Homo sapiens: one gene and its partners. The protein of the gene in region 1 interacts with the protein of each later gene in a pairwise test. Each region holds a gene or a part of one and is shown on either strand. Other genes may lie near its edges.

What was found.
Region 2: the proteins of KIAA1328 (region 1) and COPB1 interact in binary tests that used the Homo sapiens proteins (3 or more experiments, as listed by UniProt).
Region 3: the proteins of KIAA1328 (region 1) and CLCNKA interact in binary tests that used the Homo sapiens proteins (3 or more experiments, as listed by UniProt).

What each region holds. Positions count from the first base shown.
Region 1 is NC_000018.10:37,215,587-37,225,278, forward strand, and holds part of KIAA1328 (protein hinderin), read left to right. Parts: intron 1-6,430; coding exon 6,431-6,641; 3' UTR 6,642-9,692. UniProt on the Homo sapiens protein: Competes with SMC1 for binding to SMC3. May affect the availability of SMC3 to engage in the formation of multimeric protein complexes.
Region 2 is NC_000011.10:14,489,812-14,498,156, reverse strand, and holds part of COPB1 (coatomer subunit beta), read left to right. Parts: intron 1-3,717; coding exon 3,718-3,947; intron 3,948-4,345; coding exon 4,346-4,515; intron 4,516-7,477; coding exon 7,478-7,592; intron 7,593-8,345. UniProt on the Homo sapiens protein: The coatomer is a cytosolic protein complex that binds to dilysine motifs and reversibly associates with Golgi non-clathrin-coated vesicles, which further mediate biosynthetic protein transport from the ER, via the Golgi up to the trans Golgi network.
Region 3 is NC_000001.11:16,030,691-16,034,550, forward strand, and holds the end of CLCNKA (chloride channel protein ClC-Ka), read left to right. Parts: intron 1-1,019; coding exon 1,020-1,153; intron 1,154-1,512; coding exon 1,513-1,601; intron 1,602-1,752; coding exon 1,753-1,836; intron 1,837-2,479; coding exon 2,480-2,566; intron 2,567-2,920; coding exon 2,921-2,968; 3' UTR 2,969-3,360; downstream 3,361-3,860. UniProt on the Homo sapiens protein: Anion-selective channel permeable to small monovalent anions with ion selectivity for chloride > bromide > nitrate > iodide. Forms a homodimeric channel where each subunit has its own ion conduction pathway.

The DNA.
Region 1 (9,692 bases):
AGGGATATTGGTCTAAAATTCTCTTTTTTTGTTGTGTCTCTGCCAGGCTTTGGTATCAGGATGATGCTGGCATCATAAAATGAGTTAGGGAGGATTCCCTCTTTTTCTATTGATTGGAATAGTTTCAGAAGGAATGGTACCAGCTCCTCTTTGTACCTCTGATAGAATTCGGCTGTGAATCCTTCTGGTCCTGGACTTTTTTTGGTTGGTAGGCTATTAATTATTGCCTCAATTTCTGAGCCTGTTATTGGTCTATTCAGGGATTCAACTTCTTCCTGGTTTAGTCTTGGGAGGGTGTATGTGTCGAGGAATTTATCCATTTCTTGTAGATTTTCTAGTGTATTTGCTTAGAAGTGTTTATAGTATTCTCTGATGGTAGTTTGTACTTCTGTGGAATCGGTGGTGATATCCCCTTTATCATTTTTTATCGCATCTCTTTGACTCTTCTCCCTTTTCTTCCTTATTAATCTTGCTATTGGTCTATCAATTTTGTTTCTTTTCAAAAAACCAGCTCCTGGATTCATTGATTTTTTGAAGGTTTTTTGTGTCTCTATCTCCTTCAGTTGTCCTCTGATCTTAGTTGTTTCTTGCTTTCTGCTAGGTTTTGAATTTGTTTGCTCTTGCTTTTCTAGTTCTTTTAATTGTGATGTTAGGGTGTTGATTTTAGATCTTTCCTGCTTTCTCTTGTGGGCAGTTAGTGCTATAAATTTCCCTCTACACACTGCTTTAAATATGTCCCAGATATTCTGGTACGTCATGTCTTTGTTCTCGTTGGTTTCAAAGAACATCTTTCTTTCTGCCTTCATTTTGTTATTTACTCAGTAGTCATTCAGGAGCAGGTTGTTCAGTTTCCATGTAGCTGTGCAGTTTTGAGTGAGTTTCTTAACCCTGAGTTTGAATTTGATTGCACCGTGGTTGTGATTTCTGCTCTTTTACATTTGCTGAGGAGTGCTTTACTTCTAACTATGTGGTCAGTTTTGGAATAAATGTGATGCGGTGCTGAGAAGAGTGTATATTCTGTTGATTTGGGGTGGAGAGTTATGTAGACATCTGTTAGGTCCGCTTGGTGCATAGCTGAGTTAAAGTCCTGGATATCCTTGTTAACCTGCTGTCTCGTTGATCTATCTAATATTGACAGTGGGGTGTTAAAATCTCCCATTATTATTTTGTGGGAGTCTATGTCTCCTTGTACTCTCTGAGGACTTGCTTTATGAATCTGGGTGCTCCTGTATTGGGTGCATATATATTTAGGATAGTTAGCTCTTCCTGTTGAATTGATCCCTTTACCATTCTTTGATTGCCTTCTTTGTCTCTTTTTTTTTTTTTTTTTGTCTTTGTTGGTTTAAAGTCTGTTTTATCAGAGACTAGGATTGCAACCCCTGCTTTTTTTTTGTTTTTTTTTTGTTTGTTTTTTTTTTGCTTTCCATTTGCTTGGTAGATCTTCCTCCATCCCTTTATTTTGAGCCTGTGTGTGTCTCTGCACGTGAGATGAGTCTCCTGAATACAGCACACTGATGGGTCTTGATTCTTTATCCAATTTGCCAGTCTGTGTCTTTTAATTGGGGCATTTAGCCCATTTACATTTAAGGTTAATATTGTTATGTGTGAATTCAATCCTGTCATTATGATGTTAGCTGGTTATTTTGCTCGTAGTTGATGCAGTTTCCTCCTAGCATCGATGGTCTTTACAATTTGGCATGTTTTTGCGGTGGCTGGTACCGGTTGTTCCTTTCCATGTTTAGTGCTTCCTTCAGGAGCTCTTGTAAGGCAGGCCTGGTGGTGACAAAATCTCTCAGCATTTGCTTATCTATAAAGGATTTTATTTTGCCTTTACTAATGAAGCTTAGTTTGGCTGGATATGAAATTCTGGGTTGAAAATTCTTTTCTTTAAGAATGTTGAATATTGGCCCCCACTCTCTTCTGGCTTGTAGAGTTTCTGCCGAGAGATCAGCTGTTAGTCCAATGGGCTTCCCTTTGTGGGTAACCTGACCTTTCTCTCTGGCTGCCCTTAACATTTTTTGCTTCATTTCAACCTTGGTGAATCTGACAATTATGTGTCTTGGGGTTGCTCTTCTCAAGGAGTATCTTTGTGGTGTTCTCTGTATTTCCTGAATTTGAATGTTGGCCTGCCTTGCTAGATTGGGGAAATTCACCTGCATAATATCCTGAAGAGTGTTTTCCAGCTTGGTTCCATTCTCCCTGTCACTTTCAGGTACACCAATCAAACGTAGATTTGGTCTTTTCACATAGTCTCATATTTCTTGGAGGCTTTGTTCGTTTCTTTTTACTCTTTTTTCTCTAAACTTCTTGCTTCATTTCATTTGTTATAGCCACAGGAGTTAGAGAAAATGCCACACTTTGAGACAAATTAAGAGTCCTTTATTTAAGCCGGCGGCCAAAGAGATGGCTAATGCTCAAAATTCTCTTGGCCCCGATGAAGGGGCTTAACTTTTATACCTAGGTTTAGGAAGGGGAGGGGGACTTAAATGCAATAACTCTACAGAAGTAAAAACATGCAAGAATCAAAAGAAGCAAATGGTTACAGAGAAATGAACAATTTAAAAGACAAATGGTTACAAAAAGAGCAAGGGTACCAGGTGCAAGGCTCTAAATCCTTCATTATAGTTAGATATAAATGCTATGCCAGACAGGAACTCAAGGCTTTGTGTTGTTATCTCTTTGAGCAAAACCCTGGGAACTTCATACATTGTTTGCTCCAGTATCTTACCAGTTAATTGGGCTCCTTTGAAATGCTGAGGATCTGCTTACACAGGTTAACTCCTTAAGGAAGGGGGTTGGGTAAGGAGCCCTTAATGTCTTGTAAATCAAGAGGTCAAATGGAGTTTGTCCGGCTTTCCCAGCCAGGGAGAGTGTATTCATATGGGAAACATGGCTGGCAATTAAGGAGACAAAAAAAGGAAAATTTAAAGTAGTGAGCTAGAGTAAAAAACAAGGTTAGGCGTTACACATTCATTTGATCTTCAGTCACTGATACCCTTTCTTCCACTCGATGGAATCAGCTTCTGAAGCTTATGCATGCGTCACGTAGTTCTCCTGCCATGGTTTTCAGCTCCATCAGGTCATTTAAGGTCTTCTCTACACTGTTTATTCTAGTTAGCCATTCGTCTAATCTTTTTTCAAGGTTTTTAGCTTCCTTGAGATGGGTTCATACATCCTCCTTTAGCTTGGAGAATTTTGTTATTTCCAACCTTCTGAAGCCTACTTCTGTCAACTTGTCAAAGTTATTCTCTGTCCAGCTTTGTTCCATTGCTGGCGAGGAGCTGTGATCCTTTGGAGAAGAGGCACTCTGGTTTTTAGAATTGTCAGCTTTTCTGCTCTGGTTTCTCCCCATCTTTGTGGTTTTATCTACCTTTGATCTCTGATGATGGTGACCTACAGATGGGGTTTTGGTGTTGATGTCCTTTTTGTTGATGTTGATGCTATTCCTTTCTGTTTGTTAGTTTTCCTTCTAACAGTCAGGTGTCTCAGCTGCAGGTCTGTTAGAGTTTGCTGGAGGTCCACTCCAGACCCTGTTTGCCTGGGTGTCACCAGCAGATGGCTGCAGAACCGCAAATATTGCAGAACTGCAATATTGCTGCCTGATCCTTCCTCTGGAAGCTTCATCTCAAGGGGCACCCAGCTGTATGAGGTGTCAGTCGGCCCCTACTGGGAGGTGTCTCCCAGTTAGGCTACACAGGGGTCAGGGACCCACTTGAGGCAGTCTGTCCGTTCTCAGAGGTCAAACACCATGCTGGGAAAACCACTGCTCTCTTCAGAGCTGTCAGGGATGTTTAAGTCTGCAGAAGTTCCTGCTGCCTTCTGTTCAGCTCTGCCCTTCCCCCAGAGGTGGAGTCTACAGAGGCAGGCAGGCCTCGTTGACCTGCGGTGGGCTCCACCCAGTTTGAGCCTCCTGGCTGCTTTGTTTACCTACTGAAGCCTCAGCAATGGCAGATGCCCCTACCCCTGCCAGGCTGCTGTCTCGCGGGTCGATCTCAGACTGCTGCACTAACAGTGAGCAAGCCTCCGTGGGCATGGGACCTACTGAGCCAGGTGTGGTTTATAATCTTCTGGTGTGCCATTTGCTAAGACTGTTGGAAAAGCGCAGTGTTTGGGTGGCAGTGTCCCTATTTTCCAGGTACTGCCTGTCATGGCTTCCCTTGGCTAGGAAAGGGAAGTCCCCCGACCCCTTGCGCTTCCTGGGTGAGGTGATGCCCCACCTTGCTTCGGCTTGCCCTCTGTGGGCTGCACCCACTGTCCATCCAGTCCCAATGAGATGAACCAGGTACCTCAGCTGGAAATGCAGAAATCACCCATCTTCTTTGTCGATCACACTGGGAGCTGCAGACTGGTGCTGTTCCTATTCAGCCATCTTGGAACTGTATCCCCCAATTTTTTCTAATTTTTAATTTTGAGGAGGATCTTTCTGTTGATGCAACTGACAGTGGAGCTGCTAAGAGTATTTTGTAGGCTGTGCCAACATTTGCATAGATTTCTAATAAAGTATTTCCAAATATGAATTTTAGTTTATATAGAGGTGATTATTCTTGGGGATCAGATTTTCTAAAAAGATTTAACTCTTCATACACATTAGTTTCATACATGTTGGAATTTAATTTTAAATACAAATCTCTATGATGTCATTTTAATGTTTTCTCTAGCATGTTCTGTAACATATAAAGATCATATAAGAAACCAAAAATCACTTAATGATTTGTCTATAATTCACAGTGCTTGTTTATGCTTTCTATAGCAGCATCTTCAGTTACAAAGAAAAATTAAATTTAAAAATTGTATTCCTCATTAATAATTGGTTCATTAGAAATTGCATATGAGAATAGTGGGTTTTTTCCTATCAAATGCAACAATCTTTAATTTTTATTTCCAAACCTGTGGATGTTCGCTTTCCAGTGTTGTAGCAGTTTTTAAAACCAGAGATTCTAAACTCTTTGAAGGCTTCTAATATATCTCTGATATGCTTCATTGTAATGTCCACGTGTATGTTTTTATTTTCTAATAATTTACTGGCATTTATACTTAATGCTAGCAGTTCCTATCCCAGTTCTCAGGCCAGAAAGATGACATTTTTGCCACAGGGATGGGCTTGGGAAACAGACAACCCAGCCTCTCACCACTGCTGCTTCTGCCATTGTCACCACCATTAATTTGGAGCTAGGTTCTGGCCCCAGCTATCCCCTTAGGGCCCTATGTGGTACTCCAAACTGTTTTTGTTTGTTTGGTTGGTTGGTTGGTTGGTTTTTTGTTTGTTTGTTTGCTCTATTGCCCAGGCTGGAGTGCAGTGGCACGATCTCAGCTCACTGCAGCCTCCACTTTCCAGGTTCAAGCGATTCTCCTGCCTCAGCCTCCTGAGTAGCTGGGGCTACAGGCACATGCCACCATGCCCGCCTAATTTTTGTATTTTTAGTAGAGACAGAGTTTCACCATGTTGTCCAGGCTGGTCTTGAACTCCTGACCTCAAGTGATCCACCCACCTCGGCCTCCCAAAGTGCTGGGATTACAGGCATGAACCACCTCACCCGGCCCCCAGAATGTTTTTTTACCTCTAAGCTGCTCTGCACTTACCCTTTCTGAAAAGAATGCTGGACACAAGGCAGTCTTTCTTTGGAGGGATGTCTTTATAGATTTAGAATCTTTTCCCAAACTTCTAGAAAAAGTGGAAGGGGGTTAACAGGAAGGAACTAACATTTATTCAGTGCCTATTATGTATTCATTTATATCAATGAATTCATTTAATCCTAACTGGAGTTTTGCTAGCCTCTTACACATGAAAAGACTGAACTGAGACACTGAATAACTTCCCCAATATTACACAGCTTGCAAATGGTAGAACAGAGATTTGAACCAAGCGTGTCTGTCTGTGAAGATTTCGACAGACAGCTTTAGTGTCCTGGATGAGAGTGCTGGAGACAAACCACCTGGGTTCAATTCTAGACTCTGCTGTGTAATTGCTTTCTGTTAGATGAGTTACTTCCCTGAGCTTTAATTTCCGCATGTTTATAATGGAGATGAGAGTAGTATAGTACCTACTTCCTAGGGTTCATTAGAGGATTATAGGAAGGTTAAATATTTGTAGTGTTAGGAACAGTGCCTGACAGTAAGCCTGCAGTAAATGTCACTGTTAATATCATTACTGTTATCATGATTACTCTTCCCACTCTACAATCTCTCTTCATAAGTTATAAAGGAATGTTAGGGGTCAGCAAAAGAGAAGAGCTTATGTACAGGCAGCAGGGCCTAGGTTCTTCAAGTCCTTCTGGTGTTTACCTTCACAAAAATTCCCTTAAGCATCATCTTATGCATGATGTGATCTGTAATCTAATTCTTGCCCTGGACAGCCCATTTCTGCTGGGCTTCTTGAATTCTCATTTTCTAATAATCTGATCCTTTCCTGTCTGGGTTATATGTCTTACAGGTATGAGACATCTTTGTTGGATTTGGTTCAGTCTCTGAGCCCAAACTCTGCGCCCAAACCTCAGCGCTATCCCTCCAGAGAAGCTGGGGCCTGGAATCATGGTACTTTCCGACTCAGTCCTCTAAAATCAACCCGGAAGAAGATGGGGATGCACAGAACCCCTGAAGAGTTGGAGGAGAATCAGATTCTGGAAGATATATTTTTCATTTGACATATTGCAAAATTTTCTTAGGAAATTTGTGGGTTTCCTCACATACTGATCTAGGATTTTAAATTATTTCATTGCAAAGTAATTGTGTCTCTCCTTTCACGGGGACTTGTCTCACTAGCATCCTGTTACGTATTGAATATAGAAATCATTCTAACAACCCAGGTTATTTTCAATCAGACCAGGCATTCGATAACACACTAAGGGGGTAGGAATGGAAGATGGTATCTTTTATATGCTAAACAGATTAGAAAATTAACATAGGATACTTTCTGCGTGGTGGAAACCATTGCATATTCAGCCTCATTTCAAGAGTGTTTCCTTCTCAAACTTCTGCTAGAAAATGCTGACTCACTTTTATATACAAGAAAAACCTTTCCACTGAAAAATCCCTCTGATTTAAAAGTAACCCCTTTGAAACATAAGCAGTTTCAGAAAGGCAGACTCTCTCATCTTTCTCATCCTGTTCTCTCACTACTACATTTCTGTAAGTGGTCCTTTAATTCTGAAGTTGGAGTTGGTGCCCCTGCCATCACAAACAACACGAGAGCCAATTGTGAGTCAGTCTCAGTAGCCATCAGCCTGGCAGCTGCCCATCCCATAACCAAAGAGCTCAATGGGCTGGAGGGTGAGACCCAGCCAATCCTTGGGAGCAAGCAGCACTAAATCACATCAGGGAGTGATTAGTCCTGGGGAAATTCAGTGGAGGCACAAGCCTGAAGCACTCTTCTACCAATGTTTGGGTGACCACCCCTCCAATATCCCAGAATGAATAAGAACAATCCCTAGGTATTTTTATTTACCCAAGTGTTCAGCTTATTCACCCCACCCCCCCACCCCCCATCACACGTGCTCCTGTGAACTTTCCATGGTTATGTCTACGGAAAATGCCACTAGAGAGAGAGTGATGCAAGCTGCTGCAAAGCTGATGGGCTTCCTCTGGCCCTCCCTTTTCCTCCACGAGGATTAAAGGATACAAGCTGACCAGGCCTCACAGGTGCTCTGCTCGTGGCCCCAAAGAACCATCTCTACTTGCCAGAGTATGTTCCACCACCCAAGCAGGGTCTCCCTACTTTTTCTCACTGGCCTCGTTTTGACCCAGAGAAAGCCTATGGAAGTTATGCAGTGCAGACCTCATCCTGTCTGCTGTCTTTTCTCCCACAGAGCTCTTGAGATGGGTCCTTCAGCTTGCAGTGGTCCCTAGTAGCCTCTCAAGCTAATGGGGATGATGATCCTGGTTTAGCCAGAGTTCAAAACTCTCCAGTCATTGAAAGCAAGGGGAGGGTGTGTTCCCAGATGTGTATTACTTGGGAATTTTATTTGATCTGGAGGGTGTGGCTTTTTTTCTCTCCTTTTTACCAACCCCAACTAAACTGGGAGTAAGACTTAGTCAGTGTTGGTAGACAAAGTCATACCACCCAGGGCAGCCTGCATGCAGCGAGTCTGCGTGGCTTCCCTGAATTACTCTTTTAATTAAAACTAGATTATTTCAATCTAGAAAAGCCTTGTTGAGCAGCCTCCTTATCCAGATAGATCCAAAGCTCATGTCTCTTCAGGCTGAGACTGGCGCTGTCACCTCCACCCAGCCTTCTTTCACTTGGGGTTTTTTATTCTTTGGAGTAGAAAAGAATGGAGCCCACTAATATTATATTTTTCTTCTGAAATAAATATAAAGTCAAGACTAACTAGTTATAATCATTCCCTTAAAAAGTTGGAAAATCATTACAGATTAAAATTTCTTTATAAAGTTCACCTCTGAGAGTAACCAAATCGGTTTCATCCCATATCAAAAAGCCTTTGGAGTGTGGAGCTTTCTGTGGTATGGCAGAAATGGGTGGATGGCAAACTAAGAGCCCTCAGCCATTTTTTCAGTTAAAGTTAGGTTGCCAGAACTTTCTTTTCCTTGCCCCCTGTGTCATGACTAGCTTAAGTGTACTTGACTCCCATAGACTACTCCCATGCCCACAGTCACCCATTCCAGACTCCAGTGTCCTTAAAACTCTGGAGTGAGAGGATGCCAGAGGATCAAGAAAAGGATCACAGTTTCTTGAAGAAGCTTGTTTGCCTTTAGAAGAATCGTAAACAGAGTCTAAACTAAAGGCTTTTTGGGGGTCACAGCCACAGAGTGGAGTTTTATTGCTTCTTTGCCTCTCCATGAATGGCCAATTTGGAAAAGCAGAGATGGGCTTTCAGCAGAATATCAACCAATACATTTTTCACATGCAAAACTCATCACCAGTTGCCTTTTTCTAACTTAATGGACATTTTGTTGGTGTTGGTGCAAGGGCAATAGGATGTAAATTTGTATATAATCTAATGTCTTCATTATTAATTGAATAGTACATGTTAACATTTTAATCTATTTAAATTTACTTTGAAATATATACATACATATGAATGAAAGGTTGTTACAGAGCCTCAAAGCTGTTGCAGACTATCCCAAGAGAAAGGATCTGGCACAAAGGAATCTGCCTTTCCTCCGTCTCAAGTCTCCCACCCTTGACTGGTTGGGATTTGCTCGTCCAGCCTCTAGACACTTCCCAAAGCAAGACTGGACACATGCCGAGGGCGTTGCGGATAGTGCCTCACCATTGCCCACCCTGCTGCCCAACTCCTGTGAGAGAAAAACCAATCAATGTTTACAAAATGGAAAAGGACACAGCATGTCCTTTGAACTCCCTAAGTAAGGCCCACAGTTCTTGATGCAGAGAACCAAAGTGAATCATAGAAAAGCTTTTGCTAACAGTCCGCTTTCCAGGAGGCAAACTTGTGTTTATCCAAACCTGATCCCCATGATGGGGACTTTTCTAGAGCACCCCAAATGTCATGGGGAGAGAGGGACTCTTTCTGCTCCCTCAGAGCTACTCTTCACTTGTCCCTGCTTCCGGCACCAAGTTCATAATAGAGATCTTCTGGCCAGAGAATCAGGGGAGAGGAGAGGCCTGATGGGGCAGAGCTGGACGAAGTCTGCTAAGAGAGATGGAGGCTGTGGCGGACTCCTTCCAACTCACGATTTATCCTCAGCTCAGAGTGTATTTTGAATATGAGCAAATG
Region 2 (8,345 bases), on another chromosome or scaffold:
TTTAAATGTCCAATTAAATTATTATTGACTGTAGTTACCCTGTGTGCTATCAAATATCGGGTCTAACTCATTTTTTCTGTACCCATTAACCATCTCCACTTCCCTACCACTACCCTTCCCACCTCTGATAACCATCCTTTTACTCTGTCTCCGTGAGTTTGTTTTGATTTTTAGCTTCCACAAATAAGTGAGAACATGTGAAGTTTGTCTTTCTATGCCTGACTTATTTCATGTAACATAATGACCTCCAGTTCCATCCATATTTTTGCAAATGACAAGATCTCATTCTTTTTTTATGGCTGAATAGTACTCCATTGTGTATATGTACCACATTTTCTTTATACATTTATCTGTTGGTGGACACTTAGGTTGCTTTCAAGTTTTGACTGTTGTAAACAGTGCTGCAACAAACATAGGAGTCCAGATATCTCTTTGATGTACTCATTTCCTTTCTTTTGGATATATACCCAGTAGTCGGATTGCTGAATCGTATGGTACCCCTGTTTTTAGTTTTTTGAGGACCCTCCAAACTGTTCTCCATAGTGGGTATACTAGTTTACATTCCCACCAACAGTGTACGAGGGTTCCCTTTTCTCCACATCCTCTCCAGCATTTGTTTTTGCTTGTCTTTTGGATAAAAGCCATTTTAACTGGGGTGAGATGATATCTCATTGTAGTTTTGATATGCATTTCTCTGATGATCAGTGATGTTGAGCACCTTTTCATATGCCTGTTTGCCAATTGTATGTCTTTGTGAAATGTCTGTTCAAATCTTTTGCCCATTTTTAAATCAGATTATGAGTTTTTTTTTTTCCTGTAGAGTTGTTTGAGCTCCTTACATATCTGGTTATTAATCCCTTGTGAGATAGGTAGTTAGCACATATTTTCTCCCATTCTGTGGGTTGTCTCATCACGTATGTCGATTGTTTCCTTTGCTGTGCGGAAGCTTTTTAACTTGATGTGATCCCATTTGTCCGTTTTTGCTTTGGTTGCCTGTGCCTGTGGGGTATTATTCAAGAAATTTTTGGCCAGACCAGCGTCCTGGAGATTTTTCCCAATATTTTCTTGTAGTAGTTTCATAGTTTAAAGTCTTAGATTTAAGCCTTTAATCCATTTTGATTTTATTTTTGTGTAAGTTGAGAGATGGGGGACAAGTTTCATTCTTCTGCACATAGTTTTCCAAGCACCATTTATTGAAGGGACTGTCTTTTCTCCAATGTATGTTCTTGGCACCTTTGTCAAAATGAGTTCACTGTAGGTGTATGGATTTGTTTCTTGGTTCTGTTATTTTCCATGGGTCTTTATGTCTGTTTTTATGCCAGTACCATGCTGTTTTGGTTACTGTAGCTATGTAGGATAATTTGATGTCAAGTAATGTGATTCCTTCAGTTTTGTTCTTTTTGCTTAGGATAGCTTTGGCTATTCTGGGTCTTTTGTGGTTCCATATAAATTTTAGGATTTTTTTTTTTTTTCTGTGAAGAATGTCATTGGTATTTTGATGGGAATTGCATTGACTCTAGATTGCTTTGGGTGGTATGGACATTTTAACAATACTGATTCTTCTAATCCATGATCATGGAATATCTTTCCATTTGTTGATGTTCTCTTCAATTTCTTTCATCAGTATTTATAGTTTTCATTGTAGAAATCTTTCATTTATTTGGTTAAATTAATTCCTAGGTATCTAATTTTATCTGTGGGTATTGTAAATGGGATTAGATTACTTCTTCAATTTCTTTTTCAGATTGTTCACTGTTGTCATATAGAAATGCTACTGATTTTTGTATGTTGATTTTGTGTCCTGGAACTTTACTAAATTTATCATATTTCTGAATTTTAAAAATGTATACCGTGTCTCCTTTTTGTGAGTGATTCTGTCAAGAAAAAAAAAATTTATAATTAATATGCTTTCCAAAGTAATGATTCTTGTTTAATTGAACTGCTAAAAATAAATACAACTTAAACTGATAAATATTGTTTAAACAGAGCAGAGTGAAAATTATGCTTCAAATATAGAAAGGATCTTTTAGAAGATAGTTTGCAGTTTGAAAAGAAACTTAATATTTTACTTGCCTATTCCCACTTCTTAATCAGCAGTAATGGAATACCTCCTGATTCTAGGTTACTTAATACTAGGTTTCTATTGAGGTCTATTTTTAGAGAAGGGAAAAGAAACCCAGTTTTATGATATTTAAAATGATACCATTATATACATAAGCCACATATATTTCCCTTTTTTCATGTTCATGTAGGATAGTTGAATGCAAAATAGTGAATACATTCATTAGTGTTTTTCCTCATAATTTAAAAATTTTCATTGTTAGATCCTCAGGATACCTAAGGTTATAGCTAGGAAGGTAAAGAATAAAATCTGCCCTTAGTTGGAACAATGCCCTAGTCTTAATTGAAGCTGCCTTAGCTACCTTCCTCCAACCAATAAATAAATACATACTCTCCAGTTTAATGTATATTTTTGCCATTAAGAAGAGTTGAGACTGGGCATGGTGGCTCATGCCTGTAATCCCAGCACTTTGGGAAGCTGAGGCAGGTGGATCACTTGACTTCAGGAGTTCGAGACCAGCGTGGCCAACATGGCGAAACCCCATCTCTAGTAAAAATACAAAAATTTTAAGTGGCTATTAAATGAAGAGTTCTGTGGGCCAGATGAACCACCGCATCTGACGCTCAGAACTCTGTTTCATAGCCGCTTAGCTCTAATCATTAGAAATGTATTTCTCATATTTAGGCCCAAATCTGGTTCCCGGTAACTACTACCCATTAGTTGTAGTTCTTTTCCTCATAATGGCCCTAAGGTTATTGAAGACTTGTAATCATTCTTTGTTCTCCCCTTCCCAAGATAATTCATTTATTTTGATGATCTAAACAGTTGTAGTACAGTGTGCTACTACATACTTCTCTGCCTTTGAGTTTTGGATCCAGAAGATTTTTAGTACTATAAATTCTTCAGTATGCAATGATAATGGTGTGAAATTTTAGATAGTTTTGCGTAAAATACTTTATGTTGCAGAGTTTTTAGGCTAAATAACAGTAAACTAGCATTTTATCTTTAATGTGTCATCCTTAATTCTAAATAATGACTACTAATCTAGAACATTTGAATTACCTCCCAGTTTTCCAGATGATATCTTAAGAAAGATTCTAAAGTTTTACAGCCTGCCTGCAGAACTATGATGAGATTTTAGAAATAATCCACTACTTTAGTTTTCAGCCTTTTTGAGTATGACGTTTCTCTTTCTAATGTTAAAAAAGTTACATATTTATCCTCCCATAATAGTAGTTTTAACTTTGTTAAAATGCACACAAATAGCTAAAAGCTGTTTTGAATTCAAAATCAATTAATAGTATGTATTTACATTTTGAAAAATAGCTATATGTGTTTTGAAACACGTTTACTTGGTATGACTGTAGATTCATGGAGCCTGCATTAACTCAATTGGTTAGGAACCAGAAATCTAATCCAGCGCCTTCATATTATATATAAAGAGTCTGATTTCCAGAGATAAATGACTTGAGCAAAGACAGATTATTTGGTGGAGAACCAGGTGGAGAACCTTGTCACTTGGGTTTGTACTTTTATTACCATTGCTGATACTGAAGTAAGAAGGTACATTTTATTTTGTTAATTGCTTTTAAATTTATGTGATGAATTTTCTTTTGAAATAATTGTGCTTTTTTTTAAAAAAATTTTTGATTCAGAAAAAGGAGATGTAAAGTCAAAGACTGAAGCTTTGAAGAAAGTAATCATTATGATTCTGAATGGTGAAAAACTTCCTGGACTTCTGATGACCATCATTCGTTTTGTGCTACCTCTTCAGGATCACACTATCAAGAAATTACTTCTGGTATTTTGGGAAATTGTTCCTAAAACAACTCCAGATGGGAGACTTTTACATGAGATGATCCTTGTATGTGATGCATACAGAAAGGTAAACCAAATCATAATTATTTCTGAATATTGCTTTGAATTTAAATGTAAAATTGGTAGAATGGGCTGTGTTTTAATTGTTAAAATTGAGTCTTTGATAAGATGTAAGTTGTAGAGATTTGGAATTGTAAAAGAGTTATTTTTAAAAGTTTTATTGTCACTTTTCAGACATTTTCTATGCATTTTATGTGTATATATTAATTAAAAAACAGTGACACACATATAAGACATTGATGAGATAGGTAAAAATTGCTTCAGTCAACAAGAATATGATGGAAATTGTCGGTAATCTAGGTTTTTTCTCAAACGTATTTTTTTTCCATTGGAAAGTTTTGCATTAAAATTTTCTTTTTGTAAAAAGCTGAAACTCAGCATTTCATATTTTAATTTTTATATCAGGATCTTCAACATCCTAATGAATTTATTCGAGGATCTACTCTTCGTTTTCTTTGCAAATTGAAAGAAGCAGAATTGCTAGAACCTTTAATGCCAGCTATTCGTGCATGTTTGGAGCATCGACACAGCTATGTTAGAAGAAATGCTGTTTTGGCCATCTATACCATCTATAGGTAAATAAAGATACTGCTTTGGCTTCATTCTGTGAGTACTGTTTAGTCTTTTAGACTAGTGGTTCCAAAGTGGTTGCTTGCAGACTGAATATAGCTTGAAGATATATTTTGTATGGCCAGCACTGTATTTTTTATTATGAACATTGAAAAGTCAAAAGATCTGGCAGCGCTGTTCCTAGCTTCCACAAGACAACATTCTGCTGAACTTGTATAACAGTAACCCCCTTTAAATAAGTTATATACTTTACAGTTTATGACAGTGCTTGTCATTCTCAACCGTATTACTCCAAGCCACTTTATATGTTCACTTGCTTAGCCTCTATAGGCTTTTAACTTTGGTCCTTGTTTTAGAATTCGTTTTGTGGAATGTCGGTCTTTTTACTGTCAGAAGCTTTGAGGAAGGAACTTTTTAAATGAGAAGGGCTACAGTTATAACTGAGTCCAATTCTTAGAAAGCTGAAGATTTTGAATTTTTATTTGTTTTTGTTTTGTTTTGAGATGGAGTTCCACTCTCGTTGCCCAGGCTGGAGCACAGTGGCGCGATCTCGGCTCACAACAACCTCCACCTCCCGGATTCAAGTGATTCTCCTGCCTCAGCCTCCCAAGTAGCTGGGATTACAGGCACCCACCACCACGCCCAGCCAATTTTTGTATTTTTAGTAGATATGGGGTTTCACCATGTTGGCCAGGCTGGTCTCGAACTCCTGACCTCAAGTGTTCCACTCGCCTTGGCCTCCCAAAGTGCTGGGATTGTAGGTGCAGGCTGCCACGCCCGGCTGAGATTTTGGATTTTTAAACCAATTTAAGGAACCAGTTAGATGAAGCTAGAATGCTCAGTTTTTACAGTCACAGGTATCAATTTATTAAGGACTACAATGTAATTTTTATAAGCATCTTTGTACTTTAGTAGATTTGTTGGTTAAGATATAATTTCATAGTTATCTTACTGTTAGATTTTATCCATTAAGGAAAGTGGTATTCTGGTTAATAATGTAGATGAGCCAGGCGTGGTGGCTCATGCCTGTAATCCCAGCACTTTGGGAGGCCGAGGCGGGCCGATAACCTGAGGTCGGGAGTTCGAGACCAGCCTGACCAACATGGAGAAACCCCGTCTCTACTAAAAATACAAAATTAGCTGGGCGTGGTGGCACATGCCTGTAGTCCTAGCTACTCAGGAGGCTGAAGCAGAAGAATTGCTCGAACCTGGGAGGCAGAGGTTGCGATGAACCGAGATCGCGCTATTGCACTCTAGCCTGGGCAACAAAACCAAAACTCCATCTCAAAAAATAATAATAAAAATAATAATAATAATAATAATGTAGGGTGAGTTCCTTTAATGTTACCATACAGACTACACAAATTTCAGAATTTAAACTATAGTGCACATAGAAAAATTAGGCCATTTATAGGACAATTGGAAATGTGAACACTATGTCTTGATATTAGGAAATTATTAATTTTGTGAGGTGTGATGATGAATAATTAGTTTTGCAAGTAAAGAGTCCTTGATTTTAGAGAAACCTACCAATATATTTACAGAAGAAAGGATACATTGCCTGTGATTTGCTTCAAAATAATATGGCAAGAGGTAAATTTGGCAAGGATATAGATGAAACAAAACTAGCTATGAATTATAATTGTTGAAGCAAGGTGATGGATTTTATTAAGCTAGTGTTCACTCTTCTCTGTACTAATATTTCTAAATTTCCAAAAGAAGAGGCAAGTCAGTAAGCAAATAGTACACAACTAATAAAATTCAAGGGACTATGTTTTTCCTCTTAATGTAATTCTTAATATATTGATATGCTTAAAATGTATGCACAACAGTTATTAGAGACATTGGTTAACAGATGGTGTGTTGAATAAATCAGCTTTTTCTGTATTGAACTAGAAAACGTATAATTTGATAATTTAATAGATGAAGGTATAACTTTGTGTTTCCTTCTACCAGTTCCTTTTTTTTTTTTTTTTTGAGACAGAGTTTCACTCTTGTCGCCCAGGCTCGAGTGCAATGGCACGATCTCAGCTTACTGCAGCCTCCACCTCCCAGGTTCAAGCAATTCTCCTGCCTCAGCCTCCCAAGTAGCTAGGATTACAGGCATGCGCTACCACGCCTGGCTAATTTTGTATTTTTAGTAGAGATGGAGTTTCTCCATGTTGGTCAGGCTCATCTCAAACTCCCACCCTCAGGTGATCCGCCCACCTGGGCCTCTCAAAGTGCTGGGATTACAGGTGTGAGCCACTGCGCCCGGCTCCTTCTCCCAGTTCTAATTGATTTGAAGTTTCAAAAAGCAGGCCGGGCGTGGTGGTTCATGTCTGTAATCCCAGCACTTTGGGAAGCCGAGGTGGGTGGATCACTCGAGGTCAGGAATATGAGACAAGCCTGGCCAACGTGGCAAAATGCTGTCTCTACTAAAAAAATAACAAAAATTAGCCTGGCATGGTGGCACGTGCCTGTAGTCCCAGATACTCAGGAGGCTGAGGCAGGAGAATCACTCGACCTAGAAGGCGGAGGTTGCAGTAAGCCGAGATCACTCCACTGCACTCTAGCCTTGTCTGGGCACGGTGGCTCACACCTGTAATCCCAGCACTTTGGAGGCCAAGGTGGGCAAATCATGAGGTCAGGAGTTCAAGACCAGCCTGGCCAACATGGTGAAACCCCATCCCTACTAAAAATACAAAAAATTAGCTGGGCATAGTGGTGGGCACCTATAATCGCAGCTACTCGGGAGGCTGAGGCAGGAGAATTGCTTGAACCCTGGAAGTGGAGGCAGCAGTGAGCTGAGATCGCACCACTGCACTCCAGCCCAGGCAACAGAGTGAGACTCTGTCTCCAAAAAAAAAAAAAAGCAAAAGTATGTTGTAAAGTTTGATTAAATTTAATTTTGGTATTGTCCAGAGAGTTACTAAAATAGTAAAGTAGGCTTTTATTAAATATGGATGTTACCTGTTTTATTTAAAGAAATTTTGAACATCTTATACCTGATGCTCCTGAACTGATACATGATTTTCTGGTGAATGAGAAGGATGCAAGTTGCAAAAGGAATGCATTTATGATGCTAATTCATGCAGATCAGGTGAGGTACTTTTTAAAAAATACTCTTATTACTGTATTTAAGTGACAATTGAAAGTATTACATAGACTTAATCATGTTTTTAGTCAGTAATTTTGTTTATAGTTCATGTGGTTTGTGTATTTTGAAATTTTTAAGCTTGTAGAAAAATACATTTTTTTCTTAACCCTTCTCTAAAATATTGCATATGTATACATTCTTTTTTCAATTAAACATTGAAGAGGCATTTTAGAGCAGCCACCCTACAGTTTTTAAAAATTAAAATTATTATGACTGTTCTTTCCTATGATGGTATAGATCTAAAATTGTTTAGTAGAGAAAAATAGTAGCTTTGCATAGATACATCCTTAGCCATGCCTGTGGAAATAGGGTGGCCTTCAGTGTAGAGGTGTATCCTTTTAGGTTCTTCAACTTTCATACACGGGTGCCAACTCCACATCCTGCTCTGCTGGTGGTTAAAGTACATGGATCTACTTTTGGTTAGCAATTACTCTGTACACCTTGATGCCATCTAATCTTGAAATTTTCTAGCCAGTATTTATCACCAAAATATGGGAAATAATATGCATGAAGTCTGAAAAATATGGAGGCCTTCCAGTCCTCTGAAATCTAGACACTGTGACTTTTTTCCCCCAGATCTTCCTTTAATGGATTGTCCCCCAGTTATTTAAAATTGTGGTAACATACACATAACAAAAAAATTTACCCTCTTAACCATTTTTAAGTGTTCAATGATTTTAAATACATTTATAATGT
Region 3 (3,860 bases), on another chromosome or scaffold:
TCAGGCTGACTGAAGGGGGTCACAGTGTTTGGGCTTGGCTGGGGGTGGAGGGCACCTCCAAAAAGAAACACCACCGCAGCTGACCTCCGACATGGGGGCTGGGAGGGGCTGACACACAGCTGTGCTCTCATCTCCACTCTCCCCAGTGCCCTGGGTGACCTTGGGCAAGTCCTTGGCCTTGAGGCCTCAGTGTCTGTCTAGGGGTCAGCTGGGCTTCACAGCAGGAGGATGAGTATTGCCCCGTGTACAGATTGAGGAAACCAGAGCTCAGAGAGGTGCCGTGTCTTGCTCCAGGTGACACAGAGAGTCAGCACCAGATCCGAGAGGTCTCCTCCCCTCTCCCCACTCCTGCTGTCCTTGCTGGGACTTTGGGAGCAGGAGGTGGAACGAGAATGGAAATGGGCTTTGAAGTCCTCACTCAACCAGATAGGACCAGAGCAGCTTCTGGCGCCAGAAAAGCAGACCAAAGAGGCTCTGAGAGTCCGAATCGGAGGCCCCGCTCCAAACACAAACAAGCTGCTGCCTTGCTCTGAACCTGTTTCCCCATCGGGAAAATGGGGCTGTTTATACCAGTGATTTTCAACCTTCCAAGTTTTTCCTTGGGGGTGACATACACTTTTATAATCAAATGGAATTATCCAGGGAAGGCTGCTGGGTCTGTACTCCAATCTCATTATTCATTAATGGATGGCCAGTCACTGACCACCTGGCAGATACTGGTTTTCCGTCATCTCACACTCAGCTCTGTCCAAGGTGGGACAAGACCCAAGTGAAGCTGGTCTGGGGGACATGGGGGACCAGGGGGTTGGGGATTTGGAACTGGGCCATCAGTAATGTGGTCCCCAGGTTTCCTCCCACTGTGGGTTCTAGGAGTCCCTCATTCCAGGAACCTCTCCAGCCCTGCTCACACTCCAGAGCCGTGGGTCCCTGGTTCAAGCAAAGCTCCCCTCAGATCCCCTTGCTGGCCTGGGTCTGACATCCCCGACTCCGGGACCTGATGGGAGCCCCTCTGCCTGCAGCTCCCACCATGTGAGGGTGGAGCACTTCATGAACCACAGCATCACCACACTGGCCAAGGACACGCCGCTGGAGGAGGTGGTCAAGGTTGTGACCTCCACAGACGTGACCGAGTATCCCCTGGTGGAGAGCACAGGTGCCCAGCTGGAAGGGAGGAGGAAGTCGGGGGTAGGGGATGCCCTCTGCCTCCTTCTTGAACCTGTCAGGCAGACAGGATCTGCATCCAGGCTCTGTGACTTAGCAACCAACCGTGTGACCTTGAGCAAGTCACTTCACCTGAGCCTCAGTTTCCTCATCAGCAAAATGGAAATCATGGCTACCCTCCCTTGGGGTGGTTGACATGTCTAAAGAGAGTCGGCTGGGTGCTTGTAAGGCAGTCCCTGGGCAGCTGCTGGGGTAGGAGCATGGGGACACCACCAAGGTCTTCCGGAAGCTTGGCCCTCAGGCCTGTTTCTTCATAATGCACCTCCCTCCCTCTCCCTCTCTACTTGCCAGAGTCCCAGATCCTGGTAGGCATCGTGCAGAGGGCCCAGCTGGTGCAGGCCCTCCAGGCTGAGCCTCCTTCCAGGGCTCCAGGACACCAGGTGGTTACTCCTGAGGGGCGTGGGGATGGGGCGGGGGTGGGTCAGCAGGGATGGGAGGGGAGGGACCCGCTGATCTCCTGAGGGAGAGGTGGTCTGAGAGAGGCATCCTGGGGAGGCCGGCCCTGCACCCATAACTCTTCCCCACTCCCAGCAGTGTCTCCAGGACATCTTGGCCAGGGGCTGCCCCACGGAACCAGTGACCCTGACGCTATTCTCAGAGACCACCTTGCACCAGGTAACAAGTATTGGGGAGTGTGACACACGCAGCCCCCGGGGCAGGGCAAGAGCTGATGAGGAGCTCAGGCTCCAGCCTCCCGTCCCAACCCCGCCCCGCCCATCTTATCCTGCTTCCTGCTCCTCCTGGGCCTGGACAGGGCAGCTCCTGCCGTCGCCCCTCACTGCCAGGGTTGCGGGGATGATGCAGAGAGATGAGGGAATTGGGGGGCTTGGCAAATGGAAGTCTCTGGGTGGAGAAAGACAGTGGAGTTGCACCAAGGCACACGTGCGTTTCAATTTCAGGTCCACCCCATTTTGCCTGTGTGATCTTGGACAAATTATGTAGCCAGTTGAGACAGAGCCTGACACAAGGATGGGGCAAGGGCGGAGGCTGACAGGGGACCTGGAGATGGCCCCGCCCCCTCTGTGCTGCTGGAGGGTGCTGGATGTTGGGTCCTGTCCACTTGCAGCCCCGCCCAGACCCTTGAGTGGCCTCTGGCATCCCCCAGTGGCCCACACTGGACATTGCAGGCCTGGGTCTGTTGCCTCCCACACATATCAGGCCCCGCCCCTCTTCCTGGCTCAGAGGCGTGGCAGAGTGGGCCAGAGGGTGGGCTGGGCGCCATCTACCCTCCAGTGTTTCCTAACAATCCCCCATCCAGGCACAAAACCTCTTTAAGCTGTTGAACCTTCAGTCCCTCTTCGTGACATCGCGGGGCAGAGCTGTGGGCTGCGTGTCCTGGGTGGAGGTACCAGGGTCCCGGGGGCAGAGCAAAGCAGGGGACCCATGCCTGAGAAGGCTGGGGAGATGGGGAGGTGGGGGGACACCAGCATGCTCCCATCCAAACCTGGGGGGATTCAGAGGATACTTATGAGTCCCTCTTTCTGGCCCAGATTGGCCACTGGGCCTGGCTCCCCTACCTTGTTTTCTGGCCAGTGGCCAGCCTGCCCTTCTCGGCCTCAGTGATCCCATCTGTGCAATGGGGTGGCACAGGCTCTACTATTCAGCCTGGAAATGAACCTTAGGGGACTAAAAATGCTGGAGCCCCCCTCACAACCTCCTCTACATCCCCCCCCACCTCCACCCCCTTTCTCTGTTCTAGATGAAGAAAGCAATTTCCAACCTGACAAATCCGCCAGCTCCAAAGTGAGCCGGCCCAGCAAGATGAAACAGGGCACCCCAGCTGACCTGGTACTGAGGTTGGGCTGAGACCCTGCTTCTCTTCCCCCATCACCACCTGCCCCTCCCTCCAGCCCAGCTCCATTCTTTGGCATAACAGGCAACTCTAACCTAGCCCAGAAGAGGATGGCTCATCCTGGGTGGGACGATGGCTCCTGCCTTGAAAGACAAAAATCCCACCTTGGGCAGAGCTGAGTGTGAGAAGATGGAAAACCAGTATCTGCCAGGTGCTCAGTGACTGGCCATCACATTAATGAATGACGAGATTGGAGTACACTGTCACCAAGGGCAGGCAAAGATGCCCTCTGGGGTTGTCTGGTTCCCAGTGAGAGGCTCCTGAGAAAAATAAAGCTGGTTCCCAGAGCTGCTGTCCATCCCTCATCTCAGCTGCAAGGTTGCTGGTCTGGGACTGGAGCTCCTTACCTGCGCTGGCCCAGAGTGAGTTTCCCGTGGTCACGTGGGCACTGCAGGCTCGGGCCCCTGGGCTCCTCCTCATGCTCCATTTCTTGGCAGGGAGATGATAGGGAGAGAGGTTCTCCCACCAGGTCTATGATGCTTGTCCTCATGAATAAGTGGGATACTGTGTCACTCAAACCCTAGTCTCCTGCTTGGCTGGGCCACAGCTCATAAAGCCAGGACCGAAGTGTGGCTCCTTCTGGAGTCCACAGAGCCCTGGGCATCCTCCATGAGCCTTCTATGCCTGGGTGGCCCAGGTTGACCGGCTGTGTATGTGTTGGGGTTAAGGATCCCCCCTGACTCCCTCCGGACTCTGTCCAGGGGCCCAAGGTCACATCTTCCCCAGCAGAGACCAGGCCAAGGTCATCCAGGGTGAATCCACCACTTTAATGTCCTCAAAGAAACTT